Homo sapiens: one gene and its partner. Each later gene encodes a partner of the first gene's protein in a complex. Each region holds a gene or a part of one and is shown on either strand. Other genes may lie near its edges.

Region 1 (6,687 bases):
TTCAGTCTGGAAGACCCAAATAAAGATACATGGACCAAAGAGAAGGACTTCTGTAGTGGACCTCAGTGGAGCTGACCTTTCCCTGCATTGATCCAAATGCAGTCAGTTATGCTGCCCATCAGGGCCCCTTACTGGCCCAAGCTCCACTGCCCCAAGCTCCAGGTCACATCAGAGACACCCTTCAGAGACTCCTACGCTTGGCTTTTTATGCCTCTGTTTGTTTTGCCCTGTATTTCCCTTTGGTTCTAAATGGCAAGTGGCTTTTAAAAAGTAGTATTTTCTCCCAAAACAAACCAAAAAGAGGTGTCTTATCTCTGTTAATTCAGAAAAATAAAAAACACAGAGAAGAGAATAAAATTATCTATAATTGTATCGTCTAGGAAAAAAATACATTGATGTTGGTAAATATCTCTCTAGTGTGTTTGTGTGTGTGCTTTAACTGCTTATTTATCCAATAAGAAACAGATTGTTTATCTGTTTAGGACCTTTCCCTTTATTGAATCAGTTATAACAGTTTATCATATTTCTCTAAAGCATTTTTAATATTTGCACAGTAATCTTTTTGTGACTATACCTATTTTATTTAACCAAATCTATTTTTTAGGTATTTAAATTATTTCTTTTTTTATAATTTCAAATAATAAGATGTACTTTTTAAATATAAACCTTAGTGCATAATTCATTATTTAAGGGTAAATCCATAAATGTAGTATTAATTCTCCTTTTAAATTTCTCCTTTAACTCACTCATAAGATCTCTGAACTAGGTCTCCCCCTTAACTCACATTAAATGTAATCTGCATTTTGTTATGTACAATGCTCCCTAGGAATTTGGGGAGCCCTGTGCTGGTCACTGAGCTCCCTCACTTTTATACCAGAGTAAAATGAACATTTAGGACAGTATTGGATAGAGAAACAAGGACACATGCCCGAATGGAATTGATAGAAGATGGAATCAGATTTGTCAGATTTACCCCGAGGCTTAGCAGTATTTCAGAAATCTGATGAAGTCTTTATATATAGTACATGGCAAAGCAAGGATTTGGTTTCAGGGATCCTACCTCCAAAACGTGTTACACCGTCTTATCTGAATACAGGAGTCGAAATCTTCCTTCTGCACTCTCTGTTCTATCTGGATCGTTCTAGGCCTCAACTCTCTTCGTATCCCCTCTGTATCTCTTCCCTTGATTCCACCTATCTTCTGCTGGCTTTCTGAGGTTTAGCACTGTAGGTGAAGTAAGGTCCTTTCAATAGTACCTTTTTGACTCACAGCTGATATCTTTCTTCTCTTGTCTTCAGCCTGAACAGAAACAGATGGTGGCCCAGCAGGAATCTATCAGAGAAGGGTTTCAGAAGCGCTGTTTGCCAGTTATGGTACTGAAAGCAAAGAAGCCCTTCACGTTTGAGACCCAAGAAGGCAAGCAGGAGATGTTTCATGCTACAGTGGCTACAGAAAAGGAATTCTTCTTTGTAAAAGTTTTTAATACACTGCTGAAAGATAAATTCATTCCAAAGAGAATAATTATAATAGCAAGATATTATCGGCACAGTGGTTTCTTAGAGGTAAATAGCGCCTCACGTGTGTTAGATGCTGAATCTGACCAAAAGGTTAATGTCCCGCTGAACATTATCAGAAAAGCTGGTGAAACCCCGAAGATCAACACGCTTCAAACTCAGCCCCTTGGAACAATTGTGAATGGTTTGTTTGTAGTCCAGAAGGTAAGTTTTCATATCTAATTTCATATTGATTAGTAAGAATAACGTATTTCCCATCTGATCTTAAAGAAACTTTGGAAATGGTTTTAATGTCTTTCTATATAGACAAAATAAAAAAATACAAAGTTCTAAAGAGCTGCAGAGTAAACATGCCAAAATTCATACAAAAACTCAAAAATTGTTTTTATTGTCAAAAATGTCACGATCCTATTTCAACTTACCCCAGTAGCCTCTGAAAAAGGAATTAGTTCATTCACATAATTTTTATTTCTGCATTATTTTTGTACTTTGTACATATTATCTTTATTTTAAGTGACTATAGTTGTGATTATCTTTATTTTAAGTGACTATTGTTGTGAATGCAAAGTAAGTGTAGTTGAGTAATAAACCAGATTAATGACCTGAAAAACCAATACGCAAGGCAGGATTAAAGAACTGTGATTAAATGAAGAAAACAGAAGAAAGAGTTAGCCTGAGGAGACTTTTTTTTTAATTAAAAAGTAAACTTTAATGTCAAAAATGCAAACTGGGGGAAGACAGAAAAGATCACACACAAGGCTGTCACTTCACACTTGGAAGGTTGCACGGCGGCCGGGCAGAGGCGCTCCTCACTTCCCAGACAGGGCCGCGGGGCAGAGGCGCTCCTCCAGGATACTTATTAGAAGTGAGAAATAATAAAGTATTTATTATGATTCTGAGCCTCAGGGAACTAGCCTTGTGGGATGACTTTTTCTGGTCTAGGGCAGGACCTAAAGAACCATAGAGAGAGAACCTGCTGCCCCTGCATTCAGAGCCTCAGAATAACCTCTGCTGCCCTGGGTTAGTTTCAGAAGGAATTGATAGGAAGACTCTCCAGTCCTCCTGGAAAACTCAAGTGTAAAATGACCTTGGATAGGAAAGTCATGTTCTTTATCCCAGTTTTCAGCTTTCAATCTGGCCAGCTATCCACTCATATATACTGATTTAGTCCATAAAATTAAACCTAAAATACGATCAATCTCCTAAATAACTGACCAACCTCCTGTTCCCTTTGGATCTAGACTTGATTGTGAATTGTTTCTTGTCTTTGATTACTTACTAGACTCTTGGCTGGGTCTTGCATCATTACCTCATGTCTCTCCTGGACTTGTTTTAAATAGCTCTCTTCAGGCTGGGCGCGGCAGCTCATGCCTGTAATCCTAGCACTTTGGGAGGCCAAGGCGCATGGATCACCTGAGTTGAGGAGTTCCAGATCATCCTGGCCAACATGGCAAAACCTGTCTCTAGTAAAAATACAAAAATTAGCCGGGTGTATTGGCGGACACCTATAATCCCAGCTACTCGGGAGGCTGAGGCAAGAGAATCGCTTGAACCCAGGGCGTTGGAGGTTGCAGTGAGCCAAGATTGCGCCATCGCACTCCAGCCTGGGTGAAAGAGCGAAACTCCATTTCAAAAAATAAACAAATAGAATAAATAGCTCTCTTCCAACCCAGGGTCTTCTTTTTTCCCTTGACTAATCTGGCTGCTGGCCCTGGAGAAGCTCCATCTTCTCTATCCAGCAGTTGTTGCTTCTATGGGCCACCCTGGCCTCCTCCTAAAGGAAGGGAATTTAGGACTGGAAAGATAGGCATAGGAGACAACATGTTCTAAGTAAGACACGTCTGCCTCCTCTGTGTGAACTTGCTAACATCTATTAGATATATACCTGCTAGTTTCAAAGCAGAAACATTTTTTCAAGTTGTCCCTTGAACAATGTAGGGATTAGGGCTTCTGACCCTGAGCAGTTGATAATCTGCATATAATTTTTGACTCCCCAAAAACTTAACTGCTTAATAGCCTACTCTTGATCAGAAGACTTACGGACAACATAAGCAGTCACTTAACACATATTTTTGTGTTATACATATTATATACTATATTCTTAAAAAGTAAGCTAGAGAAAAATGTTATTAATAAAATTATAAAAAAGAAAATATACTAACTATTCATTAAGTGGAAGTAGATCATCATAAAGTTCTTCATCCTCATTGTCTTGATGTTAAGTAGACTGAGGAGGAAGAGGAGGGTTGGTCTTGCCATCTTGGGGTGGCAGAGACAGAGGAAAATTCCCATATAAATGGACCTGCACAGGTAAAATCTGTGTTGTTCAAGAATCAACTGATTTCTTTTTAGAGCCTTCTTCTGGCATGTCTGATGTGTGACTGATGCGGCATTCATTAATCCGATTATCAGAGGCTGGGTGTTGATTTTCTTTTATAGGTAACAGAAAAGAAGAAAAACATATTATTTGACCTAAGTGACAACACTGGGAAAATGGAAGTACTGGGGGTTAGAAACGAGGACACAATGAAATGTAAGGAAGGAGATAAGGTTCGACTTACATTCTTCACACTGTCAAAAAATGGAGAAAAACTACAGCTGACATCTGGAGTTCATAGCACCATAAAGGTGGGAACTGCATGGAACAAAGTCAACTCTCCAAGGGGGTGATATTTTTTGTTTTCTATCAGAAAGCCGGACTGGAGCCATTGAACAGGATATAGAGTGGAAGACATTGATATTTAGTACACGTTCATCTCACAGAACTGAGGAACCTCCCTCTTAGGAAACATGTATTCTAGATACACAGTTAAGAGAACATGGGCTTTTCAAGGCAGAGGCGCATATTGTTGTGCCCACAGAGCCCAAAAAAGAGCTCCTTATTTATACTACAAGTCTAAAGCAGAAAGCTTGCCCAGAGTCGGAAAAGTCATTCTGACTAATGTCTTTGAAAGTAGACAGACAATAAATACTTTGAGGACACATTTCCCTAGCCAGTCCCACCACGTCTGCACCTACCATAGTCCAGTGCAGTTAAGTCCATGTAAACCCCTACTCTTGACCTTCCACCACACCCTCCTACCCGTGTCCTGCCACTACTTGGTGCTCTTCCCCAGGTCTCAGTGTTGGTTGCACTGCCTGCTATCTCTGTAAGAGTGGAGGCCAAGATTTGAGAAATATGCGTATGTGACCTTGCTAAGTGGGAGTGTATTTCTCAGGTCAGATATTCACTTCAGGAGTATGATCCAAGGCAGACCAATGTATTAGAAGGGTGGGAACAAAATAATTTTATGAGAAGATGATACATACACTTCAGAAGGCCATAGTGACTGCAAACAGTGGAGGGGCCACTCATCGACTGCATCTCAGACTGCATGTTTTTTTTCTCCATCCAGGTTATTAAGGCCAAAAAAAAAACATAGAGAAGTAAAAAGGACCAATTCAAGCCAACTGGTCTAAGCAGCATTTAATTGAAGAATATGTGATACAGCCTCTTCAATCAGATTGTAAGTTACCTGAAAGCTGCAGTTCACAGGCTCCTCTCTCCACCAAATTAGGATAGAATAATTGCTGGATAAACAAATTCAGAATATCAACAGATGATCACAATAAACATCTGTTTCTCATTCATTACAGTCCCACTATCTCCTTTAGTTTGTCAATCCCTTGTCTCAAGCGAAAATACTTTATCAATGTATTATATGATGTTTATACAAATTTAAAAGTAAACTATATGACAACAATTGCACAAAATACAAGAGGGAAGAATTAGGAGTACACTGTTAGAAGATCCTGTACAACATGTGAAGCAGCGCAGTATTATTTGAAAGTAGATACTGAATAATTAAAGATGTATATTTTGTCCCATAGGGCAATGATTTAGAAATATTTTAAAAGGTATAGAAATAATAACACAATTTTGTGTTATTGGAGAAAGAATAAGCATAAAGCCCAATGGAAAACTAGAGAGCCAAAACTAGGCTTGCACATTTACAGTCTATTGATTTCTACAAAAGTACAACACAGTTCAGTGGAGAAAAGACTAAAAAAAAAGCTACAACAACAATTAGATATCCATACTTAAAAAAATGAATCTGAGCCATTCCTCACTCTTTATACAAAAATAAACTCCAAACAGATCATTGGCTTTTCATAAACAGCTAAAACCATAAAACTTCTACAAGAAAACATGGGAGAAAATCTGTGTGATCTTGGTGTAGGCAAAGATTAAAGATTTAGATATCACACCAAAAGCACAATCTACATAACATAAATGCTTAATAATTTGAACTTCATCAAAATGAAGAACTTCTGTTCTTCAAAAGGTACCATTAAGAGCATTGAAAGGCAAACCATAGATTGGGGCTTAATATTTGTTAGTCACACAGCTGCTGAAGACCCTGTATCCAGGCCAGGCACGGTGGCTCACACCTGTAATCCCAGCACTTTGGGAGGCCCTGGCGGGTGGATCACCTGAGGTCAGGAGTTTGAGACCAGCCTGGCCAACATGGTGAAACCCCATCTCTACTAAAAAAAAAAAAAAAAAAAAAAAAAATAGCCGGGCACGGTGGTGGGCACCTGTAATCCCAGCTACTCGGGAGGCTGAGGCAGGAGAATCACTTGAACCCAGGAGGCGGAGTTTGCAGTGAGCTGAGATTGCGCCATTGCACTCCAGCCTGGGTGATAGAGTAAGACTCTGTCTCAAAAAACAAAAAGATCCTGTATCCAGAATTTATAAAGAACACTCAAAATTCAATAATTGCAGAACAACCAATTAAATGTTTAAAATGGGCAAAAAGATGATACATGGATGTCAAATAAGCACATAAAAATACACTCAACATAATTCATCTTTAAGGAAATGGAAACTAAAACTACAGTGAGATGCCATTATATATTTATTAGAACAGCTAAAATTTAAATTAAAATAGATTACCCATACCAAGTGCTGACAAAGATTTGGAAAAACTGAAACTCTTGTGCACTGCTGGTGGGAATGTCAAATGGTATAACCTTTATGCAAAAGAGTTTGTCCATTTTTAAAAACTTAATATGCATCTACAATGCTAAGGTCTGAGAAGGATACAGAGCAATTGAAACTCTTACTTATTGCTGGTGGGAATGAAAAGTCACATTAGAAAAGAGTTTGGAAATTTCTTATAAATTTAAACAT
Region 2 (7,952 bases), on another chromosome or scaffold:
GGGCATTTATATTTGGATGGTGGAATTATACATAATTTTAATTTTCCTTTTTATCTTTTCTGTATTGTCTAAAATGAATACACTAAGCATTGTTATCCTCAGAAAAAAATAATTGAGGGATGGGGGAAAGGAAGTCCTGCTTTCATTTGATTCTTTGGTTGGTTTTATTCTGTAAGATGAGACTTTAACAGAGGTTAGAATGCATTAAAAATTGTAAAGACAGTTGACCTAATGGCACTAAACAGGGTTAGATCTAGTTTAGATCTTTTCCAGCATGTGAATAAGAATGGATCTTTAAATAAAGATTTTAACTAGGTATATGTTTTAGAATAAGTCATACATGTACATGGTAAAAATTCAAACAGTACAAACTGTGCAGCAAGGTATGGGAAATAAAGCAGCTCTCACTGTCACCTCCACCCATCAGCCTTCTCACACTGCACGCCCACATCTGTGTGTAATTCTGCTTTTCTTTAACATTACTGAAGGAACTTCCTGTGCATTTTTTGTCAGAGCTCTTCTGTGAATACACAAAATATGTACTGATCAATACATTATGTAGATCACGCAGGCTCAACCACATTGATCTTCCTATTCTTTCTAGTAGCCAAATAGAGTTCCCTGGAATATGATTAATAGCTTGCCTAAATCTTCTAATGCTGATAAACAGTTGTTTCTGCTCTTTCGTTATTTCAAGGAATGCTACCATGAATAGCCTTATATATGGTTTTGAGTATACTTGTTTAAGTGAATGTAGGAAAAACTCTTGGAAGTTAAATTGTGGGCCAGTTTATGTGAATTTTATATTTTGACAGAGATGGCTAAATTACCCACCTGTTTTTTTGTTTTGTTTTGGTTTTGGTTTTGCTTTTTTTTTTTAAGAGTTGGGGTCTTGCTACCTGGGGTCTTGCCACCTGGGGTCTTGCCCAGGGTAGACCTGAACTCCTGGGCCACGTTGGTTTATTTTACTGCATTCCCAGGGCCTAGAGCAACGATTGACACGTGCTAGCAGTATCTATTGGAAATTCTGGCCAACTTGCAATAGACCTGATTATTTCTACACTGAACATGTCTAAGATAGCTATTACTATTCATTCAGGAAAGCCCAGACAATTATCATGCCAGCAGCCTGAGACAGTAGCCAGTAATAGCCTGGTGTGGTAGTTTGCTCCTGTAGTCTCAGCTACTCAGCAGGCTGAGGTGGGAGGATGGCTCTAGCCTGGGAGGTGGAGGTTGCAATGAGCCAAGATTGCGCCCTGCACTCCAGCCTGGGTGACAGAGTGAGACCCTGTCTCAAAAATAAAAATAAGAATAAAAAATAAACCAGCAAAAGTTTCTGCCCTCACAGAGCTTCCATTCTAGTGAGAGGGTAGTTTGTCATCAGGAGGGTGACGCCGGTAGGGCTGGGGGCCAGCTCCCTGCAGGGAACAAACATGATCGCAGTGGGGTGGGAGTAGGGGATGAGTCCCCAGAGCCTCTGTGGTTTCCATTTCCACACAAAAAAACCACTGCTGCTGTAATCAGGAGGGGGAAAAGATTTTTAAAAATTTTCTTTCAGGGAATGGAAGGAAAGGATATTTTTGAAAGTAAGACTTTGAAAACTAAAAGTTTTGGGTCACTTAAAAACTCAAAATCTTTAGGTCACTTTAAAAATATTTAATCTTGGAGCTGGAGGCCATTATTCTAGGTAATTAGCTGGGTGTGGTGGTGTGTCCCTGTAATCCCAACTACTAGGAGGCCGAGGCAGGAGGATTGCTTGAACCTGGGAGGCGGAGGTTGCAGTGAGCCGAGATCGCGACACTGCACTCCAGCTTGGGTGACAGAGCAAGACTGGGTCTCAAAAGAAAAAAAAAAAACGAAAACTAAATACCGTATGTTCTCACTTAAAAGTGGGAGCTAAGCTATGAGGATGCAAAGACATACAGAGGGATATAATGGACTTTGGGGATTGATGGTGGGGTTGAATGGGAGGTTGGTCCTAATAGGTCCTAGTACGTCCCCTACTTCTAAGTCTTCCAGTCTGTCCTTTGCACTTTGAATGTTAATTCCAAGTTGGATAATGTCATTCTCATTTTTACAGTCCTTTCTTAGCTCCTCATCACCTCCAGGACAAAGCCTAAACCCCTCGCCCCATGGTAATGCGGCCCCTTTGTGACATGGTACCTGGCTAGAGCTTCATCCCTTTGTCCCATCACTCTCCATCCCAGACACTTTGTAGTTACTTTATTGAGCTCCTTGTGCCTGCCTGAATGGACTTGAAAGTTCTTACCTCCATCTTTTACATTAATTGTTTCCTGTAAGAATTGTGCTTTCTCGCATTCTCCCCAAAATCCCTTCCCCATAGGAAGCCCTTCTCCCAGGCTAAGTTAAGGTTTCTTCCTCTACATCCCTACCACACTCTGGTCACAACCCTCTAACCATTGGCTTGTTTTTTTTGTTTTTTGTGTTTTTTTTTTTTTTGTGAGACGGAGTCTTGCCCTGTCACCCAGGCTGGAGTGCAGTGGTGCAATCTCCGCTCACTGCAACCTCCACCTCCTGGGTTCAAGCGATTCTCCTGCCCCAGCCTCCTGAGTAGCTGGGATTACAGGCACGTGCCTCCACACCTGGCTAATTTTTGCACTTTTAGTAGAGACGGGGTTTCACCATGTTAGTCAGGCTGGTCTCAAACTCCTGACCTCGTGATCCGCCTGCCTTGGCCTCCCAAAGTGTTGGGATTAGAGGCGTGAGCCACCGCGCCCAGCCCATTGGCTTGTTTGTATGTCTACCTTCCTAAACAGTAAGAGGGAACTTGTCTGGTGTTCTTTTTTTCTCTCCTGTGCTGACAGCACAATGACCAGTACCTAGTAGTTGCAGTAGCCTTTGATGAACAAGCCAGCAAATGGTACTTTTCTTCCTTATCTGAACATACCATTTATTTTGACTTAGATTATATTCTCCTGCCTTTTAAAAAGATGGACTTCAGCAGAAATCTTTATGATATTGGGGAACAACTGGACAGTGAAGATCTGGCCTCCCTCAAGTTCCTGAGCCTGGACTACATTCCGCAAAGGAAGCAAGAACCCATCAAGGATGCCTTGATGTTATTCCAGAGACTCCAGGAAAAGAGAATGTTGGAGGAAAGCAATCTGTCCTTCCTGAAGGAGCTGCTCTTCCGAATTAATAGACTGGATTTGCTGATTACCTACCTAAACACTAGAAAGGAGGAGATGGAAAGGGAACTTCAGACACCAGGCAGGGCTCAAATTTCTGCCTACAGGTGGGTGGAAACTCCCATTGTGGGACTGGGAGGTGTGGGTTGAATGGACAGCCTCTGAGCTGATTGGGGCTTTTTTTTGTGGTACCCTGCCTAGTGCCTGGGAACCCAGCAGTGCCACAATTCTAAGCTTCTACAGAAAGACAGTAGTGCCTTGGGTGGTCCTGCTAAAGGCTGTAAAACTTAGCTTCTCCCCACCCTAGAGAGAGTGGGTAAACAAAGGCGTGAGAGAGAAACCACATTCAGTATCACTTGGGAGGCTTTGGGAAGATGTCCCACCGGAGCCAGATTAAGAAATTTAGGGGCCTTATATATAATTCTATAGAAATGCTAAGACCATAAAATAAAAATTTATTTTTCAAAGTGAAACATTACTTAGAGGTATGCTGAAGTTATAATAGAGTTTTTCTAAGTGTTCTCATTTTTTTCCTCTCTTATCTTGATGCCTCTCGATATCCAGATTGTGTGCTTACTTTGCCCATCCATTGAGTAAAGCATCATGGCTTCCCACCCTGAAATCCCCCTCCCACCTGCTTGCGGATGGCTATGAAAATTTTCAATGAGATTTAAGGGTTTTCTGCCACACTTAAAGACTCGAATGACTAAGTTCTTTACGGAGCTGTAAGCCGCTGGCCTGGCACATACAGCTAGGCAGTCTCCACCGAGGCTGCCCAGTTCCTGTGAGCCCGGCTGTATGACAGTTCTAAGCTTCTATAGGAAGACAGTGGCACGTTGGGTCATCCTGCCAAAGGCTGTAAAACTCAGCTTCTCCCCACCCTAGGGAGAGTGGGTAACCAAAGGTGTGAGAGAGAAACCCCATTCAGTTACAACTTCATGATGCTGTGACAAGACTTTAAAAACAGAAACACATTGTCACTTTCTCTCTTTCAACATCTCCTATTATCGGACACTACTTAAAGCAATTTTAGCTTTGCTTTCAGGAAACTTCTACTGAAGTCTTCGTTCTGGGCCCATTTCATTGTCTCTGTTTGCTTGTTGATAACTATGGCATGTGAGATGGAAAGGGTTCACAACCAGGGCTGACAGCTGCTGTCCTCTGATGGCTCAGCCCATGAATGCTCTGGTCTTTCTATTCTCAGAGACTATTTTTTGTTTTGAGGCTTGACTATTTTTTGTTTTGTTTTGTTTTGTTTTTGAGACGGAGTCTCGCTTCATCACCCAGGCTAGAGTGCAGTGGCATGATCTCGGCTCACTGCAACATCTACCTCCAGGGTTCAAGTGATTCTTCTGCCTCAGCCTCCTGAGTAGCTGGGATTACAGGTGTGTGCCACCATGCCCAGCTAATTTTGTATTTTTAGTAGGACGGAGTTCCACCATGTTGGCCAGGCTGGTCTCGAACTCCTGACCTTAAGTTATCCACCAGCCTTGACCTCTCAAAGTGCTGGGATTATAGGTGTGAGCCACCATGCCCAGCCAAGGCTTGACCATTTTGATTTTAAGTGAAAAAAGAGATATTCTGGGCCGGGTGAGGTGGCTCACGCCTGTAATCCCAGCACTTTGGGATGCTGAGGAGAGCTGATCACCTGAGGTCAGGAGTTCAAGACTAGCCTGGCCAACATGGTGAAACCTCATCTCTACTAAAAATACAAAAATTAGCTGGGTGTGGCGGCTCACGCCTGTAATCCCAGCTACTTGGGAGGCTGAGGCAGGAGAATTGCTTGAACCCAGGAGGTGGAGGTTGCAGTAAGCTGAGATTATGCCATTGCACTCCAGCCTGGGCAACAAGAGTGAAACTCTGTCTCAAAAAAAAAAAGAAAGAGATATTCTGGGTATATAAGTTTCCTAGGGCTGCTGTAACAAAGTAACACAAACTAGCAGGTTTAAAACAGTTTTTAAAATGTGTTTTCACAGTTCTGGAGGCCTGAGTCAGAAGTCAAGATGCCAACAGTGTTGGTTCCCTTTTAAGAGGCTCCGAGGAATAATCTTTTTCATGCCTTTCCCTGCTTCGGGTGGGTGGAGGAATCCTCAGTGCTCCTTGTCTTGTAGATGAGGCACAGCAGTCTCTGCCTATGTTCCCTTCTCTGTGTCTAAATCTCCCTCTTATGAGACAGTCACTGGATTAGGAATTAGGGCCCACCTAATCCAGTATGGCCTCATCTTTGTGTGTGTGTGTGTGTGTGTGTGTGTGTGTGTGTGTGTGTGTGTGTGAGACAGTGTCTCACTACATCGCCCAAGCTGGAGTGCAGTGGCATGATCTCGGCTCAGTGCAACCTCCACCTCCTGGGTTCAAGCAATCCTCCCACCTCAGCCTCCCAAGTAGCTGGGACTACAGGCACCCGCCACCATGTCTGGCTAATTTTTGTATTTTTTTGTAGAGATGGAGTTTCAAAATGTTGCCCAGGCTAGTCTTGAACTCCTGGGCTCATGCAATCTGCCCACCTCAGCCTCCCAAGTTCTGGGATTACGGGCATGAGCCACTGCGCCTGGCCAGCATGACCTCATCTTAATGAGATTTTATCTGCAAACGTCCTGGGTCCACATAAGGTCGCATTCTCATATTCCAGATAGACATGAATTTTGGGGAAGAGGGGAGAACACTATTCAACCAGTACACTAGATAGCTTTGGTTTACTAGCATTGTGAAGTCTTTATAAGGCACTTATTCATTAAGGCGCCAGTTAGTCCTAAAAACCCACAGCCCCAGAACAAGGAAAGCCGAGGGGGGTCTCATCTTGTGCCCACCATCTTGGTCCTTTGAAGGTTCCACTTCTGCCGCATGAGCTGGGCTGAAGCAAACAGCCAGTGCCAGACACAGTCTGTACCTTTCTGGCGGAGGGTCGATCATCTATTAATAAGGCAGGATCTCTCTTAAAATCTTTAATGTATTGGCTTAGAGATAAAAGGGTCCGGGCAATCCTGACTTACTGCTTGTTCATTATCATTGAATACTAGCCAGAAGCTAATAAATATGCTAGGGTGACCACTTACCATTATAAGAAAACACTAGACATTTTATTTTCCAGTTATAATTGCTACCTATAAAATAAAGATCTTATAAACTATTCAGGTTCATTACTAAATGGTGATGGTACAAGAAAGCCTATAGGCTTCAATAATGAGGAAAGCAAAAGGGTAAATACCTTGTAATAAAGGTGAAAGAGTCAGAGTAGCTTTGGATTAGATCCAATTTTGGCCAAACTGAAAGCTTTAGATAAACACTTCTAGGGTAGAGAGTCCATGAGAAGGGGGATAAGGCAGATGGTAATACTGAGTAATTTCTGTTTCTACGCCATTTTTATTTTCAGAATTTTACTTTTCTAATTAAATTTTAAAGTCAACGTGTTTTTGTATTAAAATTATTTTCCTTTACACCATAGTATTGAAAGGTTTGCTGACTTCTAAAACATTCCTTTGTTCACCTATTCGACAAGCATATTCCAAGAGCCTAAATGTGCCAATCACATAAATGTGATAGGCATAGATTAGGAAATAGTAACACCTATCACTCATTGAGCACTTAGTGTGTTGCCAAAGACTGATTTAAGTACTTCACATAAACTTATTTGTGTAACCCTCGAAACCTTCCTATGATGTGGTTACGGATAATTATCTTCAGTCTATGGACGAGGAAAAAATGTGTAACATGTCTAAAGTTAACACTGCTCAAAGATAGTGGAACCAAGGCTCCAACACCAATAGCCTGGGTCCGCTGAGCTCAATCATTGCACCTCACAACCCTCTGGGTTTATGAAAATAAAAAGGGTACGGACCTGGCCACTAGGGGACTTGAACAGTTTCTAAACAGACAATTATTTTCTGTTTTTATTTTTAGTGTGGTGGCATGATCACAGCTCACTGCAGCCTCAACCTTCTGGGCTCAAGTGATCCTCTCACCTCAGCTTCTGGAGTAGCTGGGACCACAGGTGCATGCCACCACACCCGGCTAATTTTTAAATGTTTTTGGTAGAGATGGGGTCTTGCTATGTTGCCCAGGCTGGTCTCAAACCCCTGGGCTCAAGTGATCCTCCTTCTGCCTTGGCCTCCTAATGCGCTGGAATTAGAGGCATGAACCACTGCACCAGGCCAACAGACAATTATGTGTGTTATCGTTTTGGGGTTACTAAGTCATAGTGGAGTGAATGCAGCTTTGAGGATGCTCAGGCAATGCTTGAGCTGATTGTTCATGGATGGGCCTCTGCAGATAGACAAGGGGATGGGGTGTAGCGGCACCACAGAAAGGGGTGAGGGCAGGGCAGCTGGGTGTGTTTGGCTTCAGGTCCTTTCGTGTTTGCGGTCTGGTCTGTGATAGGGATGTATTCGGAGACTTTGTATTCCAGAACCGAATGCTTGGCCGTCTTACTGAAGATAATGACTGGGAGAATACTGACCAGTTTTGATTAGGGAAGTCATGAGCCAATGTGCATTTTGAAAAGCATAATTTCCAAAAGGCAAAGCATTTTGCTATTGCAACAAAATCTCCATTTTACAGAAAAAAAAAAAGGAAAACAAGATTTACTCAACTGAAATAAACTGAAAGAAAAGTTGATAGAACTTTAAATTGTTAAGGGTGGGAAAGTCGGGGAGGAGCCAGTAGACTTCTGTGTCACCACACCAGCCTCTTTCCAAGGGCTCAACTCATAAACCATGCCATTAACTGGCTTTATGTTGAAGGGAGGCCTTTGGAATCAAGCCCACTGTGACTCCATATATCAAATGGGAAATTATTTGGGAAAAGATT

What was found.
Region 2: AIM2 (region 1) and CASP8 share a complex: the UniProt entries of both Homo sapiens proteins name them as parts of the AIM2 PANoptosome complex.

What each region holds. Positions count from the first base shown.
Region 1 is NC_000001.11:159,060,941-159,067,627, reverse strand, and holds the end of AIM2 (interferon-inducible protein AIM2), read left to right. Parts: intron 1-1,298; coding exon 1,299-1,718; intron 1,719-3,953; coding exon 3,954-4,142; intron 4,143-4,909; coding exon 4,910-4,936; 3' UTR 4,937-5,144; downstream 5,145-6,687. UniProt on the Homo sapiens protein: Sensor component of the AIM2 inflammasome, which mediates inflammasome activation in response to the presence of double-stranded DNA (dsDNA) in the cytosol, leading to subsequent pyroptosis.
Region 2 is NC_000002.12:201,263,536-201,271,487, forward strand, and holds part of CASP8 (caspase-8 isoform 2 precursor), read left to right. Parts: intron 1-2,925; coding exon of another isoform or gene 2,926-2,951; coding exon 2,952-3,256; intron 3,257-5,974; coding exon of another isoform or gene 5,975-6,070; intron 6,071-7,952. UniProt on the Homo sapiens protein: Thiol protease that plays a key role in programmed cell death by acting as a molecular switch for apoptosis, necroptosis and pyroptosis, and is required to prevent tissue damage during embryonic development and adulthood.